Homo sapiens: one gene and its partner. The protein of the gene in region 2 interacts with the protein of the main gene of each other region in a biochemical or structural test. Each region holds a gene or a part of one and is shown on either strand. Other genes may lie near its edges.

Region 1 (3,819 bases), on a different chromosome or scaffold from region 2:
TGTCTCTATTTTACAAATGAGAAAACTGATATTGAATAACGTGCCCAAAATTGCACAGATAGAAAGGGGCAGAGCTAGTATTTGAACCCAAGATTCTCCTACTCCAAAGCTCCTATTCTTTCCACCACCAGGATATTTACTCCAAATACACATTAGAGACCTCCCTATTGTTTTAGAGACAATATTCTTACCACGTCTGTTTCATAAGGATTTTGAATCCATCAGGGCAAGTGGAAGGAACTGGAAGGTGGAGGCTGTTGCTTCCAACACCCCAGATAATGGCTGAAGAATCTACATCTTTGTAAGGGATCTCTCCTGTCAGCAGCTCCCAAAGCACCACTCCAAAAGACCTACAGTAGCGCCGGGAACATGGACAGAAGATGTTTCAGAAAGACTGATTTGTATTTTAGTTCTCTATTAATTGAAATCAAATTAGTACATATACCCAGTTTTAAAATTCTAATACTGCTATAAGAAAAACAGAAACATCTGGGACAACTCTGAAAAAAAAAAAAAAATCTATGTGGGGTAATCAACACTACCAGAAATTAAAACCTGAATAATTAACTCCCGTGTGTGAACAGATCACCAGCATAATGGACTGGACAAGAAATCCAGAAATAAACCAAATACATTTAGGAATTGAATGTATGATAGAAGTGACATCAAAAACCAGTGGGGAAAAATTGATTAGTTAATAAATGTTGTTGGAACAGCTAGGAAAAAAATTAAATCTATAACTCACCATAAATCAAGATAAATTTCACATGAATCAAAGATTTAAATAGAAAAATGAAACCATAAAAATCTTCTAAAAAATAAGGAGTTAAAAAATTATCTAGGAGTGTTAAAAACTTTTTTTTTTTTTTTTTTTTTTTAGACAGCATCTTGCTCTGTCACCTAGGCTGGAATGCAGTGGTGCGATCTTGGCTCACTGCAACCTCCACCTCCTGGGTTCAAGCGATTCTGCTGCCTGAGCCTCCCAAGTAGCTGGGATTACAAGTGCGTGCCACCACGCCTGGCTAATTTTTTGTATTTTTAGTGGAGATGGGATTTCACCATGTTGGCCAGGCTGGTCTCGAACTCCTGACCTCAAGTGATCCACCCGCCTTGGCCTCCCAAAGTGCTGGAATTACAGGTGTGAGCCACTGCGCCTGGCTTTTAAAGACTTTTTAAACCATGAAATCTAAAAGCCATAAAAGGAGAAATTGAGAAATTAAACTGTATTTTCAAAATCTGACACTGAAAAAAATACCATAAGCAAAATAACAAAATGTGAAGTATCTACAATTTACACAAAATGTGAATCTCCTTAATACATAAAATACTCTGATAAATTATGAGTAAAAATCAGAAAGCTGAGCAAAGATTATGAGTCATTCACAAATAAGCAAATACGATGGCTGTAACACATATGAACAAAAGTACAGGCTCACTTATCCTAAGAGGAATGCACCCAAGATACCGTTTTTTTACCTATATGATTGGCAAAAATCCAAGAGTTTAGCACATTTTGTTGGTGAGACTGAGAAAACACTCTTACATATTTCTGGTGGGAACATCAATTAGTAATCCCTAAGGAGGGTACTTTAGTAATGATTATCTAAATTACGAATGACCCCACATTTCTACTTTTTCCTATTTGCTCTGGTATTACATGCAATTTTGACATGTGCTATTATTTTGGTTTTAAGCCTAGAAGTTACTAGTTGCCAATTTTAAGGGTAAAAGAAAAGCTATTACAGGGAAAAATACTGTTAATAGAAAAGACTTATAACCTCAGAGGAAAGGTTACAGAGATTTTTTTTTAAAGCATAGCCTATAGAGGCTGTTCAATAAAAGGGCAAAACAACCTCCTACATCTCAAACATGTCTAGAGAACATAATTGTATCATAGCAAGGTACATTATTGATATGTGTAATGATGACCTGAGTCATTGAGATTAGGTAAGCTCTTGTACTTTACTCAAGAAGGTGAGAACTATGTAACACATTTCAGAAAGACTTCTATACTAAATGATCATTTGAAGTAAACTTTCAGTTTCCTAGAAAGTTCAGCATATTCTCTGAGGTCCCCCAAACTGGTGACTTACTGAGTAGATAGCCACCCTAATTCCCCCTAATCCTTCTCCCCATATATCACCATACTGGGAAGTACCTCAGAAAATATGAGGCTGAAATCAACCAAAAGTGAGCAACACTGAAGAATATTCTGGAAAAGTAAGTGCTGAAGGAAGACAGTGCTAATAGGGCGAAAGTGGGAAAAGGCTTTTTAGTTGGCACAACTGGTGGCGCCACTCACCATATATCAACTTTTTCAGAGACAGGTTCATTCCGTATCACCTCTGGCGCCATCCATGCGACCGTGCCAGCAAATGACATCTTGGTACTTTTGTCACTGAGTTCCTTAGATGTACCAAAATCTGAAATTTTTACCGCATCTGTGTGGGTCACTAAAACACTTTAAAAAGAAATAAAAAGAAAACATCTGGATCATTAGTACTAACGAAAACCATGATTCTAAATGGCTGAAACTGAAGACTTTATCTGCTACTTCCTATCTTGTAGCATTCAGCTTGCAGTTTCCAATGTCACTGGGGCATTGGCTATACACTAGAAATAGCATCATTCATACTTGTGAGGCAGTTTAGCGTAATGGGCTTTTAACACCTAGTCTTATTCTGCCTCTTCTACTTGCTGTGTGACCTTTGCCAAGTTATTTAACTCTTTTTTTTTTTTTTTTTTTTTTTTTTTTGAGACAGAGTTTCACTCTTGCCGCCCAGGCTGGAGTGCAATGGCACGATCTCAGCTGACTGCAACCTCTGCCTCCCGGGTTCAAGGGATTTTCTCCTTGCCCCAGCCTCCCAAGTAGCTGCAATTACAGGCACCTGCCACCATGCCCAGCTAATTTTTGTATTTTTAGTAGAGATGGGGTTTCTCCATGTTGGCCAGGCTGGTCTCGAACTCCTGACCTCAGGTGATCGACCCATCTCAGCCTCCCAAAGTGCTGCGATTACAGGCATGAGCCACTGCACCCGGCCTTACTTAACTCTTCTAAGCCAGTTTTCTCATGTGTAGGATGGAGACTCTTCAGGTCTTATTCACAAATTGAAAATGCAAAAAGTTCTCAACCAGTTTATATTTTTTTCACATGTATAAGGCAAACTCACTTTCTTCATCCCATTTTGTGTGAACAATAGGTTTTGCTGCAGATTTGTTAATGTGGTTGATTTTAGGATGCTGCTCCAGACCTCGCTGGATGTCTAAGGTAGTGCACTACCTTTCTGAAAATATCTTGCTTCAAGAGTTTTGGATAAGGGATGATAGACCTGTAATAACAATCTCACTGAATTTTCATTTGAATTAAATGAGGTAAGATACATAAGGCACCGTTATCAATAAATATTGGTTTCCATCCTTGCTGGCTTTAGCCAGGCCACTAAAAAGAGTACTTCTTTTAAAACACTGTTTAAATGATAGCCAACTAATATCATGAATGAGACCATGATGTTTGGGATTCATTACATTAAAAGGCTAATATATATGCTGGGATTTCACTAGTGCTGATAAGGAAAAGCAGAAATAAATCCAAGCTTAAGTAAATTCCACACCAGTCCTGTTTTACTTGTCATAGTAGTTATCTGAAAATGTGGCCTGAGGCAAAGTGCTCTCTGCCAGCCTTGAAGATGAATACAATCCGGTACCAAATTGACAGCTTCACATTAGATCGAATTCACTTGCAATAACCTGTTCAGAACTTTAGAAAATTAAAGACTTAGGGTTTCAGAGGCTTTAATGATCTAGGGACCTATGTTTAAT
Region 2 (3,819 bases):
AAACTTCCTGCTACAGGGCCTTTGTGTTTGCTCTTCCCCACTCTCCAGAAGGCTTGAACTCCACCGTCTTCACTAATTAACTCCTCTCACCCTTCAAAGATCAGCAAAACATTACATTTATAGCCAGCCTCCCCTGCCACTGCTCCCACTCCTCAGACTGGGCCCAGGGTCCTTGTCATCCTCTTGGGACTCTTGCATGGGTAGTATCGCATTCTTCCTTGGGATCCCCGTATATCTCCCTCATTAGGTTGTGATCTCTGTGAGGTCAGGGGCTGCGGCTTATTTATTTATTTATTCAGGATCTTGCTCTGTCGCCCAGGCCGGAATGCAATGGCGTGATTATAGTTCACTGTAACCTCAAACTCCTGGGATTAAGTGATCCCTCTGCCTCAGCCTCCCGACTAGCTAGGACTATAGATACACACCATCATGCCCGGCTAATTAAAAAAAAATTTTTTTTTTTTTGAGACGGAGTCTCGCTCTGTCACCCAGGCTGGAGTGCAATGGCCCAATCTCTGCTCACTGCAACCTCTGCCACCCAGGTTCAAGCATTTCTCCTGCCTCAGCCTCCTGAGTAGCTGGGATTACAGGCATGTGCCACCACACCTGGCTAATTTTTGTATTTTTAATAGAGACATGGTTTCACTACTTTGGTCAGGCTAGTCTTGAACTCTCGACCTCAAGTAATCTGCCTGCCTCAGCCTCCCAAAATGCTGGGATTACAGGCGTGAGCCACCGGGCCCAGCCTAAAAAATTTTTTTTGTAGAGCCAGGGTCTCGCTAAGTTGTCCAGACTGATCTTGAGCTCCTGGCTTCAAGTGATGCTCCTGCCTTGGCCTCCCAAATCATTGGGATTACAGGCTTGAGCCACTGTGCCTGGCCTGTCTGATTTTTCTTCAACGCTATTTCCCTAGTGCCTAGCACAGAGCCTGGCCCATAGTAAATCTCTGTTGTGTAGTCCAAGATTGGGCTTGAATCTCAGCTTGGCCTGCCGAGTGTCCTTGCAGAAGGGCTTCTGAAATCGGTGGCGGTGCAGCCCCATTGTGGAAGTGCTGCGTGGGGGCAAAGCTATAGGTGGCTGGTATGTGGGAGGAGGGGAGAGAAAGAATAGTGGGAAAGGAACAAGTGTTGACCCAGCCTCCGCTACATGACCTTGATCTCATTCAGGAGTCACATCAACCATGAGCAAGGTGAAGTCATCCCCATTGTGTGCTCGAAGAAACCAAAGCTCAGAGAAGTCTCAGAGGCCACAGAGCTGGGTGCTGGTGGAAAAAAGACTTGGCCCTTGCTACATTTTAAAAAGTCAGAGAAAAAAGGGAATACACCAAACTGGTTCTTAGATCACCTTGTTTGTAGCTCTTGTAAGCGATGGGATGGGGAAGGTCGGAGGAAATGGCTGTCTGTGTAAACCCTCTGCCTGCCCACCGACCCATGGCAAAGCTGGCTGCTAGGGTCAGTGAGAGGAGCCGCACACACTGAGCCCTTCTTCTCTGACACAGGTGACCCTGGAGAGCATGACCCAGCGTCCACACACAAATCCACACGCCCTGTGAAGAAGGTCTCCAGTAAGTAGCCCCACCCCTGTCTCCATGGCAACAGCATGGCTGTGGCCTCCCCAGGCTCTGGCCAAGTCACTTCCGGCCCATCCCGAGTCACTGTGGGGCCTGGACCTCAGTGGGAAAGAAGTTGGTGGCAGTCCCCACTGCGGGGGGCTGTAGGGCTGTGGCAGAAGCTCCGCTGTCCATCAGCATTGCACGTTTGGGCTGCCTGGAACAGCAAGATGCCTGAGGCTGGCTTGTTTTGAGAAATATTTACTATACCCAAGTCCTTGGGCAGAGCCTTGGGCAAGGAGACTGATGGCGGTCCAGGAAGGGTGGAGGCTAAACCTCCTTGGCATCTCAGCAGTGTTAAGTCTCTGGGTTGTAATGGGCTTCTGCTATTACCATGTTTCTCAACTGTTTTTTTTTTTTTGGTTTCTCACTGTTACCCTCCTCCTGCTCATCCCCAGAACCATTTGAGAAAATTTTTTTCCTAATTACAACCCATGAAATTTTAATACCACCCATCTACTGCATAACTGTTTATGTTTGTGCTTTTACACATAAAAAGAGTAATCTTTTTTACTCCCCCTCCCCCAAGGATCCATTTTTGCCCTCCTAGGGGTACTATCCCCCTCATTGGGCAGGCACCTGCCATTGACATGGGGGTTGAGGAGAAGAGTGGTCCTGTTCTGCAAATGTGGACAATAGTGATATCGAGGCCACAGGATGATTCTGAGTGATGAGGGGACACTGATTGTGAGAGCTCTTTATGAGCCATATACCACTGAGATGTCCATATACCACTGAGATGTCCATATACCACTGAGATGTCCATATACCGCTGACATGTCCATATACCGCTGAGATGTTCATATACTGCTGACATGTCCATATACCGCTGAGATGTCCATATACTGCTGACATGTCCATATACCGCTGACATGTTCATATATCGCTGAGATGTCCATATACCGCTGACATGCCCATATACCGCTGACATGTTCATATACCACTGACATGTCCATATACCACTGAAATGTTAGCTGTCATTGCTTCCCTGAAAAGTTGGTGTGAACCCAGGAGGGCTGGCTGCACACTGCTGGTGTTGGGGGGATGAGAGAGCCAGGGCTTGCTCTTTGTTGTTGTTGCTTGTGCTTAGTGTTCAGGTCACCTGTAGCAGGCAGAGTGTGGTATCGGTCCCCGAATGGAACAGAGTCAGGGCTGGGATGCCTGGTGCAGATGGAGGAGGGAGCCCTTAGCTGGGCCGGAAAACCTCGAAGGGTACTTTGTGTGAAAAGAGGAGTGAAAGAGGAAGTGGAAAGGTACTGTTGACCTGTGTCCTTCCCCAGTCACCTTCCTCTGAAAGCTCCTCCCTTAGTATGAATGAGGTAGGGATGCCGGCCAGCAGGCAGGTGTGTTCCCCAGTGAGGTGAGGTCCTCATGTCACAGCAGAATGACACCCTGGAGAATAAAGTTCGGGAATGAATCAAGGCTCCTCTAGGCTGAAATGGGGAAATAGGGGAGGGGGTATGGAGTAGTCCCAGTGCAGAGAGATGTCTAAGGGTAGGTGATGAGGGAGGTGCCTGTGCCCTAGATTGATGTCACAGCCTGGGCCTCCCAAGATGCTGGTCCACAGGGAGTGGGTGGGAAAGTGGCAGAAGGGGAGGAAATGGGAGAGTGAGCGACTGTGAGTGATGTGACTTCGAAGTAGGAGAAGCGGTAGCAAGGGGGCTTTGTGGTGTGATGGGGGTCTGGGGGAGGGAGAGGGTAATAGGAGAGAGCAGGGCTTATCTGTAATGTCAGGTGTCCTGCAGGTGGGCAGGGATATGATTTCAAAAACGCCCCTTTTTGTTCCAGTGTTGTGGAAGGTGGCAAAGAAGGAAGCTGGGATCTTCTAGCCCACTTGAGTGGACTTTGGACTCACCTGGAGGGCTTGTACATCACAGATTGCTGGGTCTCACCCCCAGCCTTTATGATTCAGTGGCTCTGGCTTGGGGCCCAAGAATTTGCATTTACTATTTTTTAAGAGACAGAGTCTCGCTCTTTTGCCTAGGCTGGAGTGCAGTGGTGCGAACAGAACTCATTGCAGCCTCGAACTCCTGGGCTCAAGTGATCCTCCTACCTTAGCCTCTTGAGGAGTTAGGACTGTAGGCATGTGCCACTAAGCCAGGCTAATTAAAACAATTTTTTTTTTTTTGTAGAGACAGGATATTGATATGTTGTCCAGGCTGATCTTGAACTCCTGGCCTCAAGCAATCCTCCTACCTCAGCCTCCCAAA

Evidence for each region.
Region 1: of the proteins of TRIM25 (region 2) and MAP3K13, one has a biochemical effect on the other in vitro, tested with the Homo sapiens proteins (one study listed by BioGRID).

What each region holds. Positions count from the first base shown.
Region 1 is NC_000003.12:185,446,431-185,450,249, reverse strand, and holds part of MAP3K13 (mitogen-activated protein kinase kinase kinase 13), read right to left. Parts: intron 2,462-3,819; coding exon 2,303-2,461; intron 351-2,302; coding exon 192-350; intron 1-191. UniProt on the Homo sapiens protein: Activates the JUN N-terminal pathway through activation of the MAP kinase kinase MAP2K7. Acts synergistically with PRDX3 to regulate the activation of NF-kappa-B in the cytosol.
Region 2 is NC_000017.11:56,896,860-56,900,678, reverse strand, and holds part of TRIM25 (E3 ubiquitin/ISG15 ligase TRIM25), read left to right. Parts: intron 1-1,498; coding exon 1,499-1,564; intron 1,565-3,819.